Linked DNA regions of Homo sapiens. The gene in region 1 interacts genetically with each later gene. Each region holds a gene or a part of one and is shown on either strand. Other genes may lie near its edges.

Region 1 (3,500 bases):
AGCCACCATGGCCCACCCCCCTCCTCTTCTCAGAGGAACTGAGAACACTTTAGTTCCACTCACAGGCACCATCTTGACATTTATGCCATTGCAGGTACATATATTGATTGTATCCTTGCTTTTCTGTGCATGAGTGACATCCAGTGACTGTCAGTTTCAGTTTACTCAGACACTTCCTACTTCCTCTCATGCTTTATCCATTTCAGACCTTTCATCACTTTCATGATGCTTTGAGATCATTTCTTCAGAACTGAGGTGAGAGTGTGCTGGGGGCAAATTCTCTTTTTTATCATTTAAAAACTTTACTTAGCCCTTTGTATAATCCATTTTTGCTGGGCCTGCTATTCCAGGCTGAGCATGGCTTCCCCTGAGCACAGGCATGCTACTGCTCTACTGTGACGAGCTCCCGTGGCTGCTTTGAAGGTTCTGTCTTCCCACTCAAATTGCTTCTGAGGTTTTTGTCGCTGGCATTCTACAATTTCACTATTATGCTTCTCAGTACATAATTTCTTAAAGCGTATAGACTAAATGACTGCCTGTGAGAGCTGTCCTCCAAGATGGCATCCAATGATCCTCACCTCCTGGTATCCATGCCCCTGTGTCGTCCCCTCTCACACTAAATAGGATGACCAGTGTATCCAAAACGGATACTGTAGAAAGAGAGGAGTGTGACTTCCAAGGTTAAGTCATGGAAGTCATTGCAGCTTTCAGCTCACTCTCTCCACTCACTCACTCTGGGGGAAGCCAGCCCCCATACTGAGGATACTGAAGCTGTCCTATGGGGAGATCCACGTGGTAAGGAGCTGAGCCTCCTGCCAGCCCCTATCATGGACTCGCCAGTCATGTGAGTGAGCTGCCGTGGAAGCAGTCTCCAGCCTTCCTCAAGCTTTGAGATGACTGAAGTGTTGACTGCTATCTCAACTATAAGCTCCTGAGAGATCTCAAACCAAAGCCACCAGCTAAGCAGCTCCCAAATTTCTGACCTACGGAAACTAAGATAAAAATACTTACTGTTTTAAGTTGCTAAGCTCTGGGGAAATTTGTCATGCAGCAATGGATAACCAATACATTGCCAAAGGCTGGGTATGGTGGCTCATGCCTGTGATCCCAGCTCTTAGGAAGGCCAGGAGTTAGAGACCAGCCTAGGTAACATAGTGAGACCCTGTCTGTAATTTTTTTTAAAAAGTAAACTAGTAATACATTTCCAGAATCACTATGTACATTTAAAATGAAATTTTCAAGATTCATGAAGTCTGTTTTTTTAAAAAACACTGAATTGTTTTTGGGAAGCTTGGCATGTTTAAAACGTTAAATCTGGCTGGGCGCAATGGCTCATGCCTATAATCCTAACACTTTGGGACCCCAAAGCTGGAGGATCACATGAGCCCAGTTCAAGACCACACCAGGCAACACAGTAAGACCCCATCTCTGCAAAAATTTTTTTAAAATTAGCTAGGCATGGTGGCATGCCACTGTGGTCCCAGCTACTTGGGAGGCTGAGGTGGGAGGATAGCTGGAGTCCAGGAGGTCCAGGCTGTAGTGAGCTGTGATTAGAGAAGCAGGAGTCTAGGAGAGCCAGGATAACATCATTTTATGTTCAACTCCACCTTGAGACTAATAGAGCACATTCCTTACAGGTCACAACCACGGACCTAAGATGTTTACAGCTAAGGAAGCAGCTTGGTAATGCCTACAAGGACAAACTCATAGAAAAGGAAGTTCAGATGTCCCAACACCCACAATAATATATGCTTTCAAGATAATTATAGTGATGCTTTAATGTACTTGCACACTAAAATGTAAAATAGTTTCCTTTTAATCAATAGAATAATAAATTGTTATGCTGTCAGCCCACCCACACGTAGGCACAGCTTGGTCTTTACATAGATAAGACCTCGATATAAGAAAAACTAAAAACAAAGTAGGTCTGTTCCTCTGCTTGCTTGTTGAGGATGCCCTGCTCTGCAGTGGAGCGGCTTTCAATAAATGATCTCTTCTCACTGCACTCTGCAGCTCGCCTCAAACTCCTTCCTGCATGAGATCCAAAAACCCTCTCTTGGGGTCCAGATGGAGATCCCTTTTCCAGTAACACTGTGATCATACCACTGTACTCCAGCCTGGTGACAGAGCAAGACCCTGTCTCAAAAACACACATATGAAATCTGCCCATCCAATATGATAACCATCTCCATCAGGAGCTCTACATGCTATTCAGTAACATTGTAAAGTGTTCTTCATGAAGGAATTGAACAACAGGTTTCTCTTTTTTTTTTTTTTTTTTTGAGACGGAGTCTCGCTCTGTCGCCCAGGCTGGAGTGCAGTAGCGCAATCTCGTCTCACTGCAAGCTCCGCCTCCCGGGTTCACGCCATTCTCCTGCCTCAGCCTCCCGAGTAGCTGGGACTACAGGCGCCCGCCACCACGCCCGGCTAATTTTTTTGTATTTTTTAGTAGAGACGGGGTTTCACCGTGTTAGCCAGGATGGTCTTGATCTCCAGACCTTGTGATCTGCCCGCCCCAGCCTCCCAAAGTGCTGGGATTACAGGCGTGAGCCACCACACCCGGCCAATAACAGGTTTATTTCTAAGAACTTCATAGTTCCTGTTGCTAAGTTGAATAGTATCCTTTGCTTCCATTCCATTTTCTGCTTTTTACTGTGTTGAAAAGTTGTGAATGGTGATCACATATCCAAACTCCCTCTTTTATCTGTACTCATGTTTCTTAAATTGGATTTTCCAAGTAGGTAACATATTAGATGCAAATAGTGATTGTCATCTTTTCAGATATTTACACATCTCATTTTCTTGATTTACTATAAGGGCTTCGGTTTCCAGAATACTGTTTATTTACTTTTTTGAGACAGTCTCCCTCTGTCGCCCAGGCTGGAGTGTGGTGGCGGAATCTCGGCTCACTGCATCCTCCAACTCCCAGGTTCAAGCAATTCTCCTGCCTCAGCCTCCCAAGTAGCTGGGATTATAGGCACCCACCACCATGCCCAGCTAGTTTTTGTATTTTTAATAGAGACGGGGTTTCATCCCATTTGCCAGGATGGTCTCCAACTCTCGACCTCAGGTGATCCGCCTGCCTCGGCCTCCTGAATTGTTGGGATTACAGGCATGAGCCACCGCACCTGGCGATTTTTCTGACGTCATAGTGGTACCATGCATCCATCTGCTTGCATCTGAAATACTTCCATTGGTGGCCACTGCAAGCTCTTGAGAGCTCCCCTCCGTCAGGCTATGGAGATGTCCATCTCTTCCCATCTTATCCAGAACCTACAGGTTTCTATACTTCGGTTTTTTTTAAATTATACTTTTAAGTTCTAGGGTACATGTGCACAACATGCAGGTTTGTTACATATGTATCCATGTGCCATGTTGGTGTGCTGCACCCATTAACTCGTCATTTAGCATTAGGTGTATCTCCTAATGCTATCCCTCCCCCCTCCCCCCACCCCACAAGAGTCCCCGGTGTGTGATGTTCCCCTTCCTGTGTCCAAGTG
Region 2 (3,500 bases), on another chromosome or scaffold:
TAAAATTCACATCGTTTCTGATTAATTTTGAGAAGAAAAGCCTCAAGATCTTTCCCACCTCGACACCTAAGCCCTAGGTCTTAGTGGGGGCGACGTCGTAGACAGAAATCCCACATCTAAAAATGTGAGAGCATAGTGGTTAAGGGTATGCATTTTGAGGCCAGGCATCATGGCTCATGCCAGTATTCCCAACACTTCGGAAGGTCGAGGTTGGGGTATGGCTTGCACCCATGAGTTCGAGACCAGCCTGGACAACATGGCGAAACTCCAACTCTACAGAAAATAAAAAATCAAAAATAAATATATTGAAAATTAGAAATTTTTTTAATTAAAAAAAAATTTGCATTTTGGAGACAGGACTGGAGTATCTATTCTACCACTTACTAACCTGCTCCATATCTTAGCCAAGTAAGGCTTTCTTCATCAACAGTGTTAATAACCCAGGGTAGGTGTGAGGATTAAATGACAACCTCCTTAGTGTGATGCTTTTACAAAGTAAACACTGAAAGAGTAGGTTTAATGGTTATCACCCTAAGGTCCCATGGAAGTCTCAGTTGTTCTAATTCAAGATTACCATGTAGCACCCTAGGCAAACAGGTTACATTATTCCCTGATTGTAGCTATCTGGGGATTGTAATCCTCAACCCTTTCTAGAGGTTCTGGGTCCCCACTGTGTTGTATTCACTTAGCAGACCTCTGTGATAACCCCAGTGGTAAACTCAGACTACACCTATGTCAGGTTCTTTGCTATGTTCTGTTAAAGCCAAAAAAAAAAGGACCAAGACAAGGTCCCTGCTATGTGTCCCGAGGAGAATGGAACAGTCACAGAAACAAATCAAGCAGCAGAGCAAATGCACAGTTCAGGGAGGCTACAGAGATTGGGAGCCCTGAAGCAAGGCTGTGTCACAGAAGTGAGGTATGAACACGTAGGGGCTGGACTTGTCAAAGAGCATAGAGGTATTCAAGAGATAAACAGTATGGGTAGGATACCTAACCAATGGTTAAGACTGGATCATAAGGGTCTTGTAATACCATGCTGAATTTGGACTTCACTGTGTAGGCCCAGGGAAACTTTAAACCATGAAGTGACAAGACCAGAAAGATCACTCCAATGGTCTCATGAAAGATGGACTGGCAACAACAGCTCAGGACTGGAAAGTGAGAGCTGAAACATTAGGCCAAGAGCCCAGGCTCACCTCCTCCAGAGGGCCTGCCCTGAGCACCACACAGCCGGGCTGTGCTGTGAAACATCCCTTTCTGCTCTCAGAAGACCTTCCACATACCACATTCATGACGTGAATAGAAATTAACCAAATCCATATTTTGCCTCAACAGAAAAAGGAATCGCTCTATGTTTATGTATTTCCAGAGACAGCACCGAATCTGCCATATAGAGAATGTGCTGAATGGCTCAATGGCTCAATGAGTCATTCTGCTGTTGGGGCAGAAGAATGAGTCCAACCTGAAACTTCATCTGAGATAAATGCCTGTGGGACAATTTGGAGATGTACACCGGAGGACAGTGGGACATGCCATCTGGCAGTCAGGAGAGAAGGTCTAAACGAGAGGTCCAGATTTGGAAGTGAAGACATGGGAAACGTAATCTAGGGCAGTGACAGGGCCTGAGGACAGGTCAGGCAGGCCAATGTGGCAGAAGAGAAGCCAAGGTAAGGAGAAGCTCTAGAAAAGGGATGAACAGAGGACCAATGAGAATGGCAGGCAGAGATCCACAAAGTGATCCAGAAGATTTCTGGTCTCAAGTATGCTGTTTACATAAAAACGAGTTACCAGTTGTTGGTATTAATTCAACTCTTGGGAAATTTATAATAATGTTATTTTATAACATTATTATAGGATAACAAAGCAAGACAGAAATCAATTTAGCACATGCATGTTTATCTCTTTAATTCCTCTGTGAATCTAACATACAGATGACTAGGTCCCATAGGACACAGGAAAAAAAGCAACATGTTGCGAACAAGTGTCAAAATAAAGCACTGAATTAGTCTTTAAGCCTTGCTAACCACTAATTGAAGTAGCTTTGATAAAAACTATTTGAGGCCAGCACAGTGGCTCACACCTGCAATCCCACCACTTAGGGGCAAGCAGTGAGGCTAAGGCAGATCACTTGAGGTCAGGTGTTCAAGACCAGCTTCGCCAACATGATGAAACCCCATCTCTACTACAAATACAAAAATTAGCTGGGCGTGGTGGCAGGCGCCTACAATCCCAGCTACTCGGGAGACTGAGGCACGAGAATCATTTGAACCCAGGAGGCGGAAGTCGCAGTGAGCACTACACTCCAGCCTGGGCTATAGAGCGACACTCAGTCTCAAAAAAAAAAAAAAAAACCTATTTGATAACCATAAATTGATATGCCTTACTTTTTTTTCTTTAAATAGGGAGAGGGTTTCACCATGTTGGCCAGGGTGGTCTCAAACTCCTGACCTCAAGTGATCCACCCACCTTGGCCTCCCAAAGTGCCGGCATTATAGGTGTGAGCCACAGCACCCGGCCAATTGATATACTTTTGATTAAAGCTGTTTACATTAGTCTCTCCCACTAAACTGGGTTCCCAGGCTTACAAGGGCAATGACTGGGGATCTCATTCATTGTCATACTCTGTCTACACGAAATATTCAGCAGGTGTCAAGTCTGCCATTTTCCTTTAAATTAAGAACACAGTTATTTGGTTGGGCTGTATTTGATGGGGGTAGGGGTAAGGAAGGGGAAAAAAACTGAGGGAAAACTGTCCTCTCTTAAATACATAGGACATGAAGAGGAACTGAGTTTGCTTTCATTATAAACTCAAGCCTGCCTCAAAATACCAGATTCTTTTCCCATGTCCTTGTGCTTGCCAAACGCATGAATTTAGACTCACCCACAATGTAAAACTCCAAAACCTTCAATTTGGCCTAACTTAGAATTCATAAATTTGGCTAAGCAAATAATATGCAAGAGTGAATTGTGACATTGTATTTACCCTAACTATGGTGTTTCCAAATACATTTTAAAAGAGCACCTTAACAGTTTTCACTTCAGACAAATCAGATAATAAGGACACCCAGTTGAAGTCACTAATCTATGTTACTAGTTAATAATGGCCCTAGTACTAGAACCATTCAAATTACTTTCTTTAAATATTCAAATTAAACTACCATTCTCCTTAATACACTGATGTTCTCACAAACCAGTACAGCACAACTCAGTATAATTTATGTTTCTGTAGATTCTTTCAAGGGGCCCTATTACTTCACCACAACACTGTCTTAACCACATGAATTAGAGGTATGAACCCTAAGAGTAAGAATGCATTCAGTCTCCAATCTATACTGGATTAGTGCTACATTATAAATTTATTGAAGGTAAAGATCATTTTCTTCCTAGACAAAGCCTTATATTTAAGTTTTAAAGCCTCACAACTTAAACATGTGAAAATTATAAACAGTCCCTTCAACTGTATCATTGCTTAAAACTCCCAAAGTTCAGGAAAACAATAA

The links.
Region 2: changes in TEX22 (region 1) and HAPSTR1 together harm fitness less than expected from each alone (positive genetic interaction), as found in Homo sapiens cells (one large-scale study listed by BioGRID).

What each region holds. Positions count from the first base shown.
Region 1 is NC_000014.9:105,401,538-105,405,037, reverse strand, and holds part of TEX22 (testis-expressed protein 22), read right to left. Parts: intron 1-3,500.
Region 2 is NC_000016.10:9,105,144-9,108,643, reverse strand, and holds part of HAPSTR1 (HUWE1-associated protein modifying stress responses 1), read right to left. Parts: exon of another isoform or gene 1,880-3,500; intron 274-1,879; coding exon of another isoform or gene 140-273; exon of another isoform or gene 1-139. UniProt on the Homo sapiens protein: Acts as a central player within a network of stress response pathways promoting cellular adaptability. The E3 ligase HUWE1 assists HAPSTR1 in controlling stress signaling and in turn, HUWE1 feeds back to promote the degradation of HAPSTR1.